Linked DNA regions of Homo sapiens: region 2 is linked to region 1. Evidence: fine-mapped expression QTL. A gene starts in region 1. The other region holds a variant in brackets. All regions are shown on one strand. Distances are from middle to middle. Region 1 holds the start of ALG8 (ALG8 alpha-1,3-glucosyltransferase). Region 2 overlaps TENM4 (teneurin transmembrane protein 4).

Region 1 (5,384 bases):
CTGAGGGAGGAAGGCTGCTCAAGCGCAGGAGATTAAGGCTGCAGTGAGCCATGATGGTGCCGCTGTACTTCACCCTGGGAGATAGAGCGAGACCCTGCCTCTAGAAAAAAAAAATGTTTCTGAGCAGTAGGTCTCAACAGTGGGCTTATTCAGTAAACCATGCTGTAAATAGATGTGCTGTCATCCAGGGCTTTGTTGTTCCATTTATAGATCACAGGCAGAGTAGATTTAGCATAAGTCTTAAGGGCCATTGGATTTTTAGAATAGTAAGTGAGAAATGGCTCAACTAGATGTCATAGATGGCATCTTCCAATGTAAGTCTGTTTCTTCTACCTTGAAAACCTATTGTTTAGTGTAGCCACCTTCATCAGTGAGCTTAGCTAGATCTTCTAGAAAACTTACTGCAGCTTCTACATCAGCACTTGCTGCTTCACCTTGTACTTTATTATGGAGATGGCTTCTTTTCTTCCTTTTTTTTTTTTTGAGACAGAGTTTCACTCTTGTTGCCCAGGCTGGAGTGCAATAGCGCGATCTCAGCTCACTGCAACCTCCACCTCCCGGGTTCAAGTGATTCTCCTGCCTCAGCCTCCCAAGTACCTGGGATCACAGGCATGCTCCACCACGCCCAGCTAATTTTGTATTTTTAGTAGAGACGAGATTTCTCCATGTTGGTCCTCAGGTGATCCGCCCGTCTTGGCCTACCGAAGTGCTGGGATCACAGGCATGAGCCACCGCGTCCGGCCGATGGCTTCTTTTCTTAAAAGAACCTCTGCTAGCTTCCAAATTTTCTTCTGCAACTTCCTCACCTCTCTTAGGCTTCAAAGAATTGAAGACTTAGGGCCTTGCTCTGGATAAGGTTTTGGCTTAAGGGAATGTTATGGCTGGTTTGATCTATCCAGACCACTAAAACATTCTCCATATCATCAAGGTTGTTTCACTTTCTTATCACTTGTGTATTCACTGGAGTAGCACTTTTAGTTTCCTTCAAGAACTTTTCCTCTGCACTCACAACTTGGCTGTTTGGCACAATGGGCCTAGCTTTCAGCCCGTCTTGGCTTTCAGGATGCCTTCCTCATCAAGCTCAATCATTTCTAGCTTTTGATTTAAAGTCAGAGATATGTGACTCTTCCTCTCACTTGAACACTTAGATGCCACTGTAGGGCTATTAATTGGCCTAACTTTATTATTGTATCTCAGTCAACAGCAAGGCCTGAGGAGAGGGAGAGAGATGATGGAACAGCTGGTTGATAGAGCAGTCAGAACACACAGCATTTATTAAGTTCACCATAGTGTTGCCCCAAAGCAATCAGAATAGTAGTATCAAAGATCACTGATTACAGATCATAACAAATATAATAGCAATGAAAAAGTGTGAAATATTTCAAGATTTACCAAAATGTAACACAGACACAAAATGAGCACATGATGTTAGAAAAATGGCATTGATAGAGTTGCTCAATGGAGAGTTACCGCAGCCTTCAATTTGTAAAAAAAATGAAAATGCAGTATCTGTGAAGTGCAATAAAGCAAAGTACAAAAAATGAGGTATTCCTGTACATGTGCTGCCAAAGTGAGCGCTATATACATTCTTAACCTGGACCAAGAGCAGTATTCAAAATAACAACTCTGGCCAGGCACGGTGGCTCATGCCTGTAATCCCAACATTATGGGAGGCCGAGGCAGGTGGATCACTTGAGGTCAGGAGATTTGAGATCAGCCCTCCGCCATCATGGTGAAACCCCATCTCTACTAAAAATACAAAAATTAGCCTGGCGCGGTGGTGCAAGCCTGTAATCCCAGCTACTCCGGAGGCTGAGGCAGGAGAATCGTTTGAACCCGGGAGGCAGAGGTTGCAGTAAGCTGAGATCGTGCCACTGTACTCCAGCCTGGGTGACAGAGTGGGACGAGACTGTCTCAAAAAAAAAAAAAATAACAAACAAAAAAAACAACTCTGAGGATACATTTCTAGCCTGAGGCAACTAAAGCAAGAAATAATCTTATGCACAGACCTACAGTTAATCATTTTACTGAATCTACATATACATTCCACTTACATGATTACATATACGCATCAGTATGGACTTACATTCTATACATATGACTCTCCCATATTCAACAAGAGATCACCAAGAGCCTGAATCAAAGGATACCAATAAAACAAACCCTAAACTAGGAAGTGGGAGGGAAAGGAGAAAAGGGATGAGGGAGAAAAAGAAAAAAGAGGAAGGATGAAGGGAAGGCGGAAGCCAATATTAATAAATACTGAGTACCTACTGTATACACACCACCATTTCATGGTTGCTTCTTGGTTTCCACGCTTTCAGTCTTGGCCCTACATCCATTTTTTACACAGCAGTCTAACTGTGGTCTTCGAAACCCTGTGTTATCTGTCCCCAGTGCACCCCATGCTGTGCCACTCCTCTCCCTCAATGCTCTGCAGCCACAAGGGGCACTTTCTGTTCCTAGAATGCTCTGACTTCTTTCCTGCCACAGGGCCTTTGAACTTACTCTTTCCTATGCCTGAACTGCTTTCCACATCACTTATTCTTTTTCATTTTTTGAATTTCAACTCAAACATCACCTTCTAAAGGAATAGCGCACAGCCACTTAGTAACCCTCTATTTCCTTTATCACAATCTGAAAAGTTCCTGTTTGTCTAGCTCCACCCACCAACTTCGAGGGCAAGGACCAGCAATGTCTTGCTCACCACCGCATCTCCCGGGAGTTAGAACGGTACCTGGCACCTCAGGCATCTGATAATACTGGCTGAATGGCTGTTGGAGGCAGAGGTTCTTAACTGCCTATTAAGGATGAGGACCCTGAGGTTCAGAAACGTTAAAGTGATTTGTTCCAAATCAGACAGCGCCAGGTCTGAACCTAGCCAGCTGGGGCTAAGTCAAGTAACAACTGGCGAAACAGAAAGCTTAGCAAAGGCAGGATAGCGACAAACACGACCTAAAGTTTTCTCTTCATACCCAGGGATATCCACACCTTTCTCTCCCGCCCTGACCGACCGCGGGGCCTCCCCGCCCAGCCCCTGGCCGTGCGAGTCCCTTACTATGTGGGGATGAGAAGGCATTTGAGAAGAGTCACCCCGAGCGCCAAAGCCGAAAACCAATTGCCAGTACCCGTGGCAATTGTGAGCGCCGCCATTGCTGCGGCACCGCACGCTTCCCACCAACTTGATCCACATCCGGGATCCCGCGCATGCGGAGAAAGCCCTCTGAAGCCGTGCCCGCTAGCTGCGCGCATGCGGCGAGCGGCGCAGCCAGTCCGGGGACTGCAGTCAGCTATTTAAACCTCCCGCCCACCTTTTCTTTAGACCCGCGTCTCACCCCGGGCCGGAAGGGCTCCTGCGCAGGCGTTTGTAGCCACTTTTAAGTTTTATCAGCTAGTTCATGCTTGCGTTGAAAGAGTGGTCGTTTGCGCTGGGTCATCACTGTGTAGTATTGGGGATACTTAGGTGAGAAAAAAACTTAACGCTAGAGACGTTCACGCACTAGTGGAGAAGCCAGGATTGTTGCCCTAGAGTTACAGTAGATAAAAGTACCTCAGAGAACTGCGGGGGCTCCCAACCTGGACGCTTGCACCGGAGTATTAAATCCAGCTAGAGAATGGCATGTGCAAAGATACAGAGGTGAGAAACATTGTGTTTTTAGAACTCTGAGCGAGGCTCTTGGCTCACCTCCTGCTTGAGCGGAACCCATTCTGGAAGCAGGGTAGAGGCTAGTCCTAACGCTTAGTGTACAAATAGCCTACGGTTCATGTTAAAATAATTCGGATTCTGATTCAGTAGGCCCAACAAACTCGCAGATTGCGTAATGACTGAGGCACATGCAATTTAATTAGGCTTGTCTCATTATTTTACTGTATGATCTTGGACAAACTAAACTCTAAACCTCAGTTTCTTTTTTTAAAATTTTTATTTATTTATTTATTTTTGAAAATAGGAGATAAAAATGGTTTCTGGCCGGACGCGGTGGCTCACGCCTGTAATCCCAACACTGGGAGGCCGAGGTGGGCGAATCACCTGAGTTCAGGAGTTTGAGATCAGCCTGGCCAATATGGTGAAACCCTGTCTCTACTAAAAATTAAAAAAAAATTAGCCGTGCATGGTGGCGGGCGCTTGTAATTCCACCTACTCGGGAGGCTGAAGCTAGAGAATCGCGTGAACGTGGGAGGCGGAGGTTGCAGTGAGCTGAGATCGCGCCATTGCACTTCAGCCTGGGCAAGCCTCAGGCCTGTTTATCCAAGATGCTTTTGGTCTAAAAAAAAAAAAGTTTCAGCCTCATAAACTGGTTGTGAGGATTAAATGAGAATGCATGTAAATTGCTTGATATGATTCCAGGACAGAATAAATGCTCAATAATGTGTCAGATCAGTTAATTATCTTGCTGAAAGATGCACAGCAAGTAGGTGACAGTGTCACCTCCCTAATATGAGTTTATGCCCTCCCACAGCTTCAGCTGCCACCCATGTGAATATGATTCACAGATTTCTAGCTCAGCACTCTTCTCTCACTTTCAGACCCTGGTCTCCAGTTGGCTACCTGACCTCACGTAGATGTTTTTGTTTTGTTTTTGAGAGACAGGGTCTCATTCTGTGGCCCAGGCTGGAGGGCAATAGTGCAAACACAGCTCACTGCAGCCTCGATCTCCTGGGCTCAAGCAGTCCTCCCCACCTCAGCCTCCTGAGTAACTGGGACCACAGGGATGTGGCAACGTGTGTGTGTGTGTGTGTAGAGATGGGATCTCCCTATATTGTCCATGCTGGTTTCAAACTCCTGGGCTCAAGTGATCTTCCTGCCTCAGCCTCCCAAAGTATTGGGATTACAGTTGTGCGCCACCATGCCCAGCTACTTAGATGTTTTAAAGGCACTTTGCATTAATTTTCTATTTCTGCTGTAAGAAATTACCATAAACTTAGTAGCTTAAAACAACACAAATTTATTCTCTTACAGTTCTGTAAACCAGAAATCTAAAATCAGTCACTGGAGTAAAGTCAAGGTGTCATTTGGATTGGTTGCTTCCAGAGGCTCTGCAGGGAGATTGTTTTTCTTGTCTTTTTCAGCTTTTAGAAGTTGCCTGCATTCCTTGGCCCCTTCCTCACATCATTCCAACCAACTTCCATCCTTACAATCGATTACTTTCCTGTAATAGCTACAGTCAAATGGGCAGCTGAAGATGATGATGATGATGATCTTGACACCGAGAAGCAGAAGACCAATGAAGATGACCAGACAGCAAAAAAGGATAAGTTAAAAGAAGGTAAAAGAAGGCCACTCGTACTTGCTGTCTCAGTATCTAAAGGTGGTCACCTTCCAGTAGAGAGGCCCACCCACTGCAGACCGTGCCACCGAAGGTGACATGCACTTTCTGCCACCC
Region 2 (5,384 bases), 720 kb after region 1:
ATATCAGAGCTTGACCAGGTAGATCCAAGGCCCATTAAAAAACTTCCTGGCATCCTAGGGTACAAAAAGATCATTTGTATGAATTAGGAACCTACAAACAGGTCCAAAAGTTAAAGGGCAACAGTCAGGGTCTCAAAACATTCATGAGAAGGACACTCTACAATCACTGGGTGCCCCCAGAGACTTAACAAACACTGCAAAAAGCTTAGGTCACAATTAGGGCTCCCCTACAGCAAGATTAGGCCTCACAAGGCAGATTTTACTGATAATAGTCCTTTGCTTTGTAAAGCTAGATAGATTCAGGCTTCCCATAGCAATGCTGTGCAAATATGCAATCATGTCTATAAAAGAAATTTCTTAATGAATTGCTAAAATGGATAGCTCAGTCAAAAAGCAAGATTTGGAAGAACTGAAATTTCATGCACTTCTCAATCATAGCCTTTACTTTCTTGAACTGAGATCTACCTATATAGATTCTAAATTCCTAATCAACTAATGTTCTTTCTCTCCCTCCACCTTTTTGGTTCTTTTCAATGCAATAACTTGCATGAAGAATTCTTTAGTTTCCTTAGCAACTGGTTGAAATTTATTTGGTTATCAAAATAAGCTGTTCTGTTTTGGAGAGCCCAGCTGAGCCTGCGCACAGCAATTTGCATGGTTCAAACTAATGGGCAATTTTTATTTCACTGCAGAAAGAAGAAAATGCTATCCCAAGCCCACCAATTCAACCATCAGAAATGCCTGTTTATTCAATGTTTTTTTCCCTTCCCCATTAATGTGTAACACAAGTTCTTGTGGCTTTAGTTCGAAAAGCTGCTGTATTTGGTTTCTGTCCCATCACAACCCTGGAATGGTTACAGCCATTTGGAAAATATAGTATGAACTGCAGTTTCATGTTATTCTCAAGGACATGATGAACATTTACAATTCTTGGATTATCATACATTTAATTCATATAAATAAGAAATATATATTCTTTAACATATTCAAAAATACCTCAAACCTTTGCAGAATCTGTGGCAGGGAGAGAATGTTAATTAGTCTGGACTTCTGGGATTTTAATAACTAATATGGAATGGCATGGGATTTGAGTGGATAAGAAGAAGAGAACAAATATTTGTTGAGTGCCACTTCAACATTAGGCTTTGAATGGATAGATATAGTTATCCTTGTTCTACAGATGAGGAAGGTCAAGGGAGATGCAGTAAGTGCCATAAGTTAACAGAGCCAATATAAAGCAGGGTCAGGATTAACATCCTATACTGTCTGGCTCCAAGGCCCATTTACCCCTTTCTATCACACCACATTGCTTTCTCCATCATTGTGAAGCAGAGACTCTAATCTTAATTCTGGAATCAGCTGTCTTCTTGAATATCCTCAGAAGGGATGAGAAATATGTGCTCACATCAGAGTTAAAGACTTTCTGCATTGAGATATATCTAGGGGAATGCATTTTTAACATCACAATGAAAAACATACACTGAGTAGACATTGGTTTGACCAGGGCAAAATAAAGGAAGAACATTGTGGTCTCACATAAACTATAGGAAGCTTTGTCCTCTGGTTTCCAGTCTGACGTATTTTTTTTGTCACAGTGATTGCTTCTGATGCTGACCACTTTGCAGCACAGTGCTGCATTGAAGGCATTTGCAAACAGGATTTCCATTTGCATCAGTAATGACAGATAATCCCTTTAAGCAAAAATACTCCAATTAAAATAAACCAATAATCTGGTGCAATTTTATTTTATCTCTTATCTGCACCTCCTGTTCCTTACAAAAACAAAACAAAACCTAAACAACCCACAGACTAATTTCATTAGAGTGAGAGATTTCAGATAGATCCGACTCCTGTTTAAAGAACGTCTGATAGAGATCATAGAGGGAAGAAAATACGTTTTGCCAAATGAGATCCTTTACCAGTTCCTTGAGGGTTAAGCATATTTTAAATCTACATTTGTACATGCTGATCTAAAGACAGTCTTCACATTATGGTATTAACCCATGGCATCTGACGCTAGAAGCTGACATGGGCACCACGAGCCAAAAGGCAGGACCATGGACAGGGCCAACATGACATTCTGAAGAGCCATCTGGTTACTTACATGATTCTATTGCTATTTTCATATGTAGAACTTACAAATCAGAATGCACCTTAGAGAGAATCTAGCTCAATATTCTCCTTTTGAAGAGGAGAAAAGGACTCCCAGAAAGTGTGTTCAAGGGATTTGCTTAAGGTGATACCACAGGTCAGTGGCTGCAGCTGGAATTGAACTCAGGGCTTCTGACTTCTAACCCAGAGCTCTTCCCAGGTCCCATTCATGATTCCTCCCTCCATATCCTATTAAGAGGCAAAGAAAGTGTGCACTATTTAGCATTTTAAGACTTAAAATCTTTGCAAATGAGAGGACTGGCTTTGTCCCTCAAAATAGTGGGCAGGGGTTCTGTGTGGAAATGATCTCAGTTCCCACTTCCCTTAAAGATGACCAGAAGCCAAGAGTTGACTTTGGCCCTCAGGATCCTCATTTCAGAGGTCATGAGTAGATACTCTGACCAAGTATATGCCACCCTGTTAAACAAACTGGTGGCTGGAAGGCAAATTATTGCAAGGGCAGAGAGGCTCAGATGCTATGACCCAAAAGTCAACTGAGAGAAAAGAAGATGTAAGCAGTGAAAGTTAGAGGCAGCTATTGCCAATGTGCTGACTGAAGGGTCACAGGGAGAGAAAGCAGGCCATAGCAGGTGCAGGAGAAGGGAACGCCACACTGCCCAGAATGACAACCAGGCTGGGTTATTAGCTCAGACATCTTTCTGGGTGCCAATTTTTGTGAGTCTGTGCCACTCTTGGCTGACAATGTCCATGGCATGTTAGAAATATTTCTAAGACATTGAGAACATGGGCCTATGGATATCCCACTCAGGAATAGCAAACCCAATGCCACCACCATTTCCATCATTGATAGGAAATATCCATGTCTCATTGTACAATAGAATTTCACACCCACATCTCCTTCAGGGCCTTGTAACCTTGGGGTAAGTCAGGTGGGGAAGCTTATGGAGATAG[C/T]GAGAGCCCTGGAGTCACAGACCTGGGCTCATATCCCAGACTCTACCATTTACTGGCTGTGTGACTCTGGCCAAATCACTTAATTAGTGCAATCCTTTGCACCAATTCTAGTTTCTATATCTAGAATAATTATAAAATAATTATCTTACAGGATCTCTGTGGGAATTAAATGTGAAATGCTTTTGGCAAAAAGTTTTAAAACAAACATGCTGTACGAACACTAATGATTATTGTTATTATTGCGGATGCGGAAACTGAAGCTCAGGCAAATAAGTGACTTGCTCAAGGTCACACGTTTAGTAAATGACAGACCACTTAAACTGGTGTTTCTATTAAACCACAAGAGTCCAAGAATCTTTCCATTACAACACCCCATCTACCTGCCTCCCCATACCCCACTCCCACAGATGCCCAACTGTCCCATGAGGTTTGCCCAGAAGAGCTCCTCTCACCCCACACAAAGATGGCCACCCCAGCAGTGTGAAGCCCCTAATGCTTCCCTCAAGGCATGGGATGGGATTCTGCTGAGCACCATGAGCCCTTCCTGAGCCTCCCACGAACTCTCAGTGACAAGGAACTGCGATGAAGACACAGGTGGACTGGCAGCTTGACAGCTGGCGTGGAGTGTGGAAGGATGGAGGGAGCGCCAGAGCATGGAGCTGTGAGCCAGGCACATGATGCACGCACGTTATGGAGGGCTCTTCAGCTCAGAGGCAGACACAGAGGACTCACAACACGGACAACGCAGCAACCCTACCTTCTGTGGTTCCTTTGCCTTTCCTGTCAGGGGTCTCTAAGCCAGTGCCCCCTGAGGGGTATAGGGAGACGTCGGTTGGCACAGGCCAACTGCTGGCTGTGTCCTCCGTGATCTCATACATCTGCCCCTCCATCGGCTGCAGGTGCCAGTTTAGGCCAAACAGGTGCATGGCTGTGGTGAGCAATGAGAAAAGTCATCTTTTTCTGCTGGAGGCAGAAACGGGACTCCCAAGCCATAAGGGAAAGGTGGGCAGGGTGGGGGAACACAGGCATTCAGTTCAGTTCAACAAGTAGCCCCAAAAGGAAGCTCTTGTAGTGCCAGCCCTGCAAAGGAGACTGGGGACAGAGAGGATCAAGGTTCAGACCCTGCCCTCAAGGGGCTCACAGTCTGGTGGAACTGGGAGTAGGCAGGATCGGGGAGTCTCAGGAGGTCTTGGTCTTTGCTTCGAAAGATAAATAACAATCTGGGGGAAAAACTGCAATTGGTATGACAATGTTAATTTCCTTAACGCAAAAATAACTTGTACAAATAATAACCAAAGTCCAACAACTCAGTAGGAAAATAGGCATTGGATATGAACAGTTTACTGAATAAGAAATACAAATAGCCCATAATCATATGAAAAGACTCTTGGCATTATTCATAGCAAAAGAAATGTAAGTTAGACTCTGAAATACTATTTTTCACATATGGTTTGGCAAAGATAAAAAAGGTTGAAAATACACTATATTGGCAGAGAATGGAAAGCAAGCATTCCCATATTTTACTGGTGTGAGAATATAATGTACAAAATCTATGGAGGGCAATTTGATAAAAGCTAGCAACATTAAAATACACATACCCTTTATCCTGGGACATAAAGCTTCCAATTCTAGAAATTCCTCCTCCAGATATACTTATACATGTACTAAATGATGTACATACAAGGTTATTCACTTCAGTATAATTTGTTATAGCAAAATATTAGAAACCAGTCCATTGATAAGGGGCAAGAAAATGAAGTAATATCCACACAACAAAATTGGATGCAACCATTAACAAGAATAAAGAGGTTCTTTATGTATTTTTGTGGAAAGATAAGTATAACATGCAGAAGTGTATTTGATATACTACCTTTGGGTTTAAAAATTCCTGGAAATGTATAAAATATTTCTGGTAGAATATGAAAGACTGGTAACAGTAGCTGTGTCCTGTGAAGGATAGAGATACTATGGATCGGGGGATAGGAGGGAAACTTGCTTTTCACTGTACACCTTTTGCACATTTTCATTTTGTGCCATGTGCATATATTTCTGTTCTAAAGATATTTTTCCATACAAAAAATTAGCCGGGCGTAGTGGCGGGCGCCTGTAGTCCCAGCTACTTGGGAGGCTGAGGCAGGAGAATGAAGTGAACCTGGGAGGCGGAGCTTGCAGTGAGCCGAGATCCCGCCACTGCACTCCAGCCTGGGCGACAGAGCGAGACTCCGTCTCAAAAAAAAAAAAAAAAAAAAAAAAAAAAAAAGATATTTTTCCAAGGTAGCAACTGCTAAAAAGTCTTGTACGACAATCTAGAAAGAGACCAT

Evidence for each region. PIP is the estimated chance that this variant, and not a neighbour inherited with it, causes the effect.
Region 2: its variant is the best candidate, but not a certain one, in a credible set for the expression of ALG8 in whole blood (TOPMed, PIP 0.72).

What each region holds. Positions count from the first base shown.
Region 1 is chr11:78,136,436-78,141,819 of GRCh38, forward strand. ALG8 (ALG8 alpha-1,3-glucosyltransferase) reads right to left here and starts at 3,191. Exons shown (of 13, transcript NM_024079.5): 1 at 3,059-3,191. The coding sequence starts at 3,153. KCTD21-AS1 (KCTD21 antisense RNA 1) reads left to right here and starts at 3,358. Exons shown (of 3, transcript NR_102281.1): 1 at 3,358-3,637. RefSeq lists enhancers at 2,774-2,883, 2,964-3,043, 3,654-3,763, 3,924-4,634.
Region 2 is chr11:78,859,142-78,864,525 of GRCh38, forward strand. TENM4 (teneurin transmembrane protein 4) reads right to left here. Exons shown (of 34, transcript NM_001098816.3): 10 at 3,821-3,991. Among named protein-coding and RNA genes, the nearest start is that of TENM4-AS1, 230 kb to the right of the region's middle. The variant C/T (reference allele first, on the strand shown) is at 3,064.